2 linked regions of the Homo sapiens genome follow. The protein of the gene in region 1 purifies or fractionates together with the protein of each later gene. This does not show direct contact. Each region holds a gene or a part of one and is shown on either strand. Other genes may lie near its edges. The genes, in order: PGM5 and PGM3.

What was found.
Region 2: the proteins of PGM5 (region 1) and PGM3 fractionate together in Homo sapiens (co-fractionation; one large-scale study listed by BioGRID). This does not show direct contact.

The regions. Positions count from the first base shown.
Region 1 is NC_000009.12:68,355,000-68,359,569, forward strand, and holds the start of PGM5 (phosphoglucomutase-like protein 5), read left to right. Parts: upstream 1-1,611; 5' UTR 1,612-2,128; coding exon 2,129-2,389; intron 2,390-2,603; exon of another isoform or gene 2,604-2,867; intron 2,868-4,570. UniProt on the Homo sapiens protein: Component of adherens-type cell-cell and cell-matrix junctions. Has no phosphoglucomutase activity in vitro.
Region 2 is NC_000006.12:83,164,050-83,166,819, forward strand, and holds the end of PGM3 (phosphoacetylglucosamine mutase), read right to left. Parts: 3' UTR 2,418-2,770; coding exon of another isoform or gene 2,338-2,417; 3' UTR 824-2,337; downstream 1-823. Other genes in the region: protein DOP1A, read left to right, coding at 611-670. UniProt on the Homo sapiens protein: Catalyzes the conversion of GlcNAc-6-P into GlcNAc-1-P during the synthesis of uridine diphosphate/UDP-GlcNAc, a sugar nucleotide critical to multiple glycosylation pathways including protein N- and O-glycosylation.

The sequences.
Region 1 (4,570 bases):
TGAGTAGAGACTAGAGGAAAAAAAAAAACTACCTCCCCGACTGGCCACACTATTCTTTTAAAAAAATGTTAATTGACAAATTAAAATTGTATGTATTTACGGAGGTATGATGTGATGTTATGATATATGTATACATTGTGGAATAATTAAATCCAGAGAATTAATAGATTCATCACCTCAAAACCTATCTTTTTTGTGGTGAGAACATTTGAAATTTATTGTCTTAGCAATTTTGAAATACACAATACTTCATTGTTAACTACAGTCACCATGCTGTGCTGTAGATCTCAACAAAATATATTCCTCCTGTCTCAACTAAAACATTGTACTCTTTGACAACATTTCCCCATTCCTCTCACCCCCTCCAAAAACACCCATTCTTTATGTTGAAGAGAATGGCTAAAAAGTCCCAGCAGGTTTCAACAGACGGCTTCAGTGGTTGTCCCATCACACTTCAATGTTATTAATAAAAAGGGGAGGGGCAATACATAATTCGGACAGGCTGAAAGTACCATTGTAACCACTTTCTTGACTTCACAGAAAAAGTCCTCTTGTTTTCATCTGTAAAATGGGAACTGCATGAATACCATTCTTCTTTTCTTCAGCCTCCAAAGAAAAAACAGATGCAAAGCCTTTAATCAATTGCAAAACAGTATACAATGTGTGTTATTACTCACAGTTGTCTTACTGTGACCAAACACTTTATAAGCCTGCGGCAAGTCAGCCTTACTCTCAGTAAGTGGACAATATTTGGGGAAGGAGAAGCAGCAGGATATTTCAGGACAGTAGCCTTGGTGGGTCCAAAAATTCCTTGAGAGAAATGGGAGATAGAACTTTCTTCCTGCTTTGGGTTTTATCCTGTTAGTCTTTTCTCTCTTCACTCCTATTTTCTATGGAGAATTTCCTGGTTTTGGAGTTTGGGTGCGTTTTATGGAGAGGAGGCAGAAAATCTTTAGCTCCAGCAGAATGAAAGGATACATGCAAAGGAACCTAGCACAGTATCTGGTACCCAGGTCTCCTTTAACTTGGCTTTATTCATTCACTCCTGGTAGGGCATTAATAAGGGATTTAGCCCCCTCCTATTGAAAACGATTAATTCAAGGAAGAGTTCAGACAGTGTGGACAGATACAGTGTAGGAAAGCCTATTTCTAAGGCAGGAGCTGGGTAGGGAGGGTGAGAAGGGCGAGAAGAATAGGGAAATATGTGTCGTCTGTGTTGCTGCTGTTGCAACCACCACAACAAACAAACAAGTGAAAAAAAAAAAAAAAAAAAAAAAGAATTGTCCATACCGGAAAGTGTGCTGTTTTGGAGGAGGCTGGGGAAAGTGTGGATGGCTCGAGTGGGTCCTGTTGGATTGAAGTCTGACAGTGGTGATTCCCTTCAACAAATGGTCGGGGTGGGAGGGTACACACACACACACACACACACACACACACCCCACACGCAGCGCCCAGCCTCCGATTTCAGCGCTGGCAGGAGATAACCATTCTTAGCTCGCCTTTCCAGGGTTATTTTTGGCTGAGGCTGTTCGCTGATGGCAAAAGGTTTCAGCCCCCTCCCAAATCCCTCCCCGTCCTTGTTCTAAAGAGAAACTGGTGTGTGTAGGCTGCGCACTCCCAGGGAGACAGGGAGACGGGCCGGGCGCCGGAGAGGAACCCGGACTCTGCCCAAAGTCTCGCCGCCCGCCGGCTGTTTTCTGGCGGAGGGTGTGCCCCGGAGGGCGGCGATCGCGGGTGAAGGCTGGGGCCAGGCGCGGGTGGAGGCGTCACCGGGGTCGGGCTAGCAGGCCCTGGAATCAGGCTTTTGGGACACCCCGAAAGTGAGTCCAACTTGGGGAGAAACTGAGGGCAGCTCGGGCGGTCTGGCAGCGGAGAAGGTGGGTGGGAGAAAACTTTACAGGAAGGCAGAAGCAATCTCTGCCGAGAGAGTCAGCCGAGCGGCCGCGCGGAGAGGAGGGGCGGGCGGTCCCCAGGCGGGCGGGTGCAGGGCGCAGGGCGCCGACCTGCTGGAGAGGGGGCCCGGGCGCGAGGCGGAGTCCCGGCGCGCAGCCAGGCTGGTGGAGGCCCCCGGCAGGCTGCAGATTCCCTCCGGCTCCGGGAGCCGCAGCAGGACCGGCCAGGAGGCGCCATGGAGGGGAGCCCCATCCCGGTGCTGACAGTGCCCACCGCGCCCTACGAGGACCAGCGGCCGGCCGGCGGCGGGGGTCTGCGGCGACCCACCGGCCTCTTCGAGGGCCAGCGCAACTACCTGCCCAACTTTATCCAGAGCGTGCTGTCGTCCATCGACCTGCGCGACCGTCAGGGCTGCACCATGGTGGTGGGCAGCGACGGCAGGTACTTTAGCAGGACGGCCATCGAGATCGTGGTGCAGATGGCCGCGGCCAACGGGGTGAGTGTCCGGATGCCCCTCGCTTCCCGCCGCGCCGCCGCCATGCCCTCTCCTAGCCCTTGTCCCCCTGCTGCCTCCGGGCCCAGTTGGGAGGCCCCTGCCCGGCCCCGGCTTTGCTACCTCACTCCCGCGTCCTCACCCTCCAGCGCCCCACTCCCGCCGCGCTCGCAGCCTCCCCGGTGCACCCCGGACACTGGGTTCTATTAGTACCCACCGCCCCCAAAAGCCTTGAGGGGTTTCCGTCGTTCCTGGAGCCACTCCGGGCGCCCTGGACTCTTCTCCGACTCTGCGCACATCCCGCACCTGCTCATTTTTCTTTCGGACATTCTCTTACCCGGCCCTGTAGATTCCAAGGCAGCTCCCAGTTTTCCATATTGTTCCCAACGCATTCACTGCCCACAGTCCCCACACAAACTTCTTTCGCAGGCTCACAACATAGTCCCTCTGCCCCGTGCCCTTTTTGCAATAATCTGCCAGTCCCCTAAGTCTTAGCTCTGCCTATTTAACAGTAGTGGTGTCTCAGAACACACACACACACACACACACACACACACACACACACACACACACACACACGATCCCTGACATATTTGGCAAGAGTAGGCCCTGAAGGTTTTTATTATTTTGGTTCTTTAACCCAGTGGAATTACTGAATGATTTATTTAATTAGGGTAGGGATGGAGTGGATCCATTTGTTTGATGCTAAACAGCCTGAGCTCGCAGTTCCCAGGGGGCATATCTCTAAATGGTCTGAAATGAGATTTGCAGTGGTTTTCTTAATGCAATTCCCAACTTCTCTCCAAATGCCTTTTGGCATTTGACAACATTTCATGCCTCTTCCCCTTTCGGTTTTCATCCTTGTTTTCTCTCCCTTCTCCCACGACCTCGGTAGTCTTCTGCAATCCAGATTCTCAGACTTCAGGTTTTTCTCCCTCTGCCCCTTTCCTCTCTGTCCTATAACTAGAAGCACCTTTTGGCATAGACCCATATCCCAGTTTCCTCTTTCCCAGGTCCAGCAGCATCTCAAGGACATCTACAAGAGGGATACCTAATTTCAGGGGTCTCTGAATTATATGTGGGAAACATCGTCTAAAAAAGTAATTTTATCCTTATTCATGCAACCAGACCCACACTCATAGAACTTTTCTTTAAGGAAAGTGTCTTGCAGATGTATAAATGAGTGTTAACATCTTTAAAAGCGAAACTGAACAATTCCCTGGCATTTGAATTCCCTCCTTCCTTCCCAACCCTCTCCTTTTCATTTTCTCATTTATTATTAAAAACATTTTTAAAGGATCTCCATGCTTCATATTTATCTACTATAATTCCTCCTTCTCGGTGTTGCAGGGATGGGGAAAGAGGATTTTTTTAAAAACATAATAAAACGCAATTGGGAGAAACAGGGCCAGTGGTGTTGGGGTGGGTAGTGGAATTGTGATTTTTGACTCCAGTAGACAATGATGCTGGATATATGGGGTTTGATTTATCTCTGGCTCCTCACTTGGGATTGATGAAGTTTGGCTAGAATCAGGGAGTTGAAGAGAGGTTGACAAATGGTCTTTCACTCTTCTCTGACAGGCTGTTCCTGTGGAGTGATGGAGAATAACGAGCCTTGGGAGAGCTATGGGAGCTCTCATACTTCTTCCCGAGCCAATTTTTTAGGGAGTGAGAGAAACATGGCCTGTCCAATACTTGTTGTGGGTCAGGATATTTTTGAAGCTACGGTTGTTGATTTGCATGGGAAAATTATTATGTCTTATTATTTCTTGTCCCACTTTACCATAAGGACTCCTCAGCTTCTTACTTCAATGGGTCTTCTATGACAAACACACTTTATTAACTCTAAGAGTGGAATTTATTTTAACAGATAATTAGCATAGGTCAATATATGCTTAAAATAGGGTCAAATTAAACCTACTAGCTGTTATAAAGGACAGATGACAAATTAAAATCCACATAGAAGCATCGACTCTTAAATAATCTGAAAGTACTACTTCTAAGAGGGGTGGGCATGGGTGAAGGGAATGGTGGACATGTTTCAGAATTTCAAACAGCCAACTTTAACCAATCTTTTCCTCATTTTGTTCACCTTCTTGGGGGCTTATGCTAAAGTGAAGTGAATAGCCATAAGGCTGGCTTCAGGAGAAAGGTGGTCTAAAAGAACTGGATAATTATAAGCAA
Region 2 (2,770 bases), on another chromosome or scaffold:
CAAAATCAAATTGTACAATTTGGGAGTGATCTAGGTTGTCTGGTGAGATCTAGTATGCAGTGTGTGCTTTGAGTGCTCAGAAATTTTCCAGTCTTCTGGAGTCCTCCTAATCAGGCAGCAGCTCTTAAACTGAATTCCATAACTATAAAAATGGAATGAAGAAAGTGATTAAAGAGATTTTGCTGGAAGGAATTTACATGAGAAAACTTGACTTAAATTCCTAGTTGCTTCTGTAGGGGCTTAATAAAAGGACAGAGATGAGGATGTATGCTGGGTCCTGAGTTCAGGGTAGGACTTTGGTACTTTCAATTTGATATCTCAGAGTTTGGGCAAGTAATCATGACAAATCCAGAAGCAAATATGACCCCAGGCACATGTCCTTTTCTGTTATGCCTGCCTTTCATTAGTAATGAGAATTTTTATAAGACCCCCCTCCTTTATCTAAATAATAAATATGACAGTCTTTTGCCCAAAATTTGTCCCACAGAATAAGAAAACTATTTTGATTGAAAGGCATCTTCCCATCCAAATCACCTTAAACAAGGTCTTCATGGCCAAGCATACTTTTCACTGGAACAAAGGCTGTGAGTTCTCCTCTTTCCTTCCACAGGACAAGGAGGAGGACTTTAAGACAGTGATTTTGGAGGGATTGGAGATGGCCAAGCATCAGGTGAGGGTGGCTGTTTCATGCTTATGATATGGCAGCAAAAGTTGCCAAATATTGAGACACAAACCCAGGTCTGAATGTCAACAAGTACAAGGGAGGTAAACAGGAAGGAAGTCTTTTTTCAAGTGTGGACTGGTGAAGTCAAAGGAGAAATCATTTGTATGGAAACATTTGACTTTATTTAATATTGAGACAATACATATAGTTCTGATTAAGAGCATCAGAAACTCTGAATCAAGTGTATTCTTCTTGGTCAAGAGCTTAATAAAAGTCCCTCTCTTAAAGGCTCATCTTGATAGGAATAGAAACAAAAGGTTACCCCATAGTTCTCTTACATTTGGAAGTTAGCTATATAGAGGGTACAAGGATATTCATTTTCCTTCAGGACAAAGTCATCTCTGTACGCCCTTTATTGTTGAATTGCAGTTTGATTTAGGGGATTAGAGGTGGTATGGTACCAGTAATTGAGTAATGGTGGAAATGTGAAAGTCAGTCACAGGACTCTCATTGGTGCCAGTGTCATAGTTAAGAAAGAAAGAAAGAAAGTTTTATATATCCTGTAATCTAGACTGGAAGCTAAATAATTGCTAGGAAGCAAACTTAAGTGATAGCTGTTAAGTTTTTTGGTTTGTTTTTGACCAGAGATGATGAAGTAGGTGATCTTTTCTTGGTTTGCTCCTAGACTCTTCCATTTTAACTTATATTTTTAGTTTGGTGCAAAAGTAATTGCTGTTTGGGACCATGAATTTTAAGTCATTATAACTAGGTTCACACAAATCTTTATTAATTAAAATAGGAACCATTACAATCAACACATTTTTGCCAATGAGAAATAAGTTTGTTTACTCCTGTAGCATAAAAATCCATGCTTCCAAATTTGACGAACTCTTGGAAAGCATTTTCTGTGTCCTGCTAGTTGTGGAAGCAATTTCCCTGCAAAACGTTGCTGAGATGCCTAAAGAAGTGGTAGTTTGTTGGCAAGAGGTCAGGTGAATATGGCAGATGAGGCAAAACTTCATAGCCCAATTAGTTCAATTTTCGAAGCGTTGGTTGTGCAACGTGCGGCCCAGTGTTGTCGTGAAAAGAATTGGGCCCTTTCTGGTGGCCAATGCCGGCTGCAGGCATTGCAGTTTTTGGTGCATCTCATTGATTTGCTGAGCATACTTATCAGATGTAATGGTTTCACCTGGATTCAGAAAGCTGTAGTGGATCAGACTGGCAGCAAACCACCAAACAATGACCATGACCATTTTTTGGAGCAAGTTTGGCTTTGGGAAGTGCTTTGGAGCTTCTTTCAGTCCAGCCACTGAGCTGGTCATCGCCAGTTGTCGTATAAAATCCACCTTTTGGCACACATCACAATCCGATAGAGAAATGATTCATTATTGTTGCATAGAATAGAGAAAATGACACTTCAAAACAACGAATTTTTTTATTTTTCACTCAGCTCATGAGGCACCCATTTATTGAGCTTTTTCACCTTTTCAATTTGCTTCAAATGCCGAACGACCATAAAATGGTCAACATTGAGTTCTTGGGCAGCTCTCTTATAGTTGTAAGAGGATCAGCTTCGATGATGTTCTCAATTGGTCATTATCAATTTCCGATGACTGGCCACTGCACTCCTCATCTTCAAGGCTCTAGTCTCCTTTGCAAAACTTCTTGAGCCATCACGGCACTGTATGTTCATTAGCAGTTCCTGGGCCAAATGCATTGTTGATGTTGTGTGTTGTCTCTGCTGCTTTATAACCTATTTTGAACTCAGAAAATCGCTAAATTTGATTTTTGTCTAACATCATTTCCATAGTCTAAAATAAATATAAACAGCAATAAGTCATTAGCAAAAAAAAAGTGAGAAATATGCTTAAAATGATGTATAACATAACCACATTTATTTAAGAATGTACTCCAATATAAAACGGCAAATTTCAACAATGCAAAAACCGCAATTACGTTTGCACCAACCTAATATTTTCCTTTTTCAGGATTTTACTTTAAAATAAGCAATAAGCTTGAGAGCACATAGAAGAAAATAAGCTGGATTTTGCATCTGCTTGACCCACTAGGAAACTAGTGATATTAAATTATTAGGTAAACAATGAA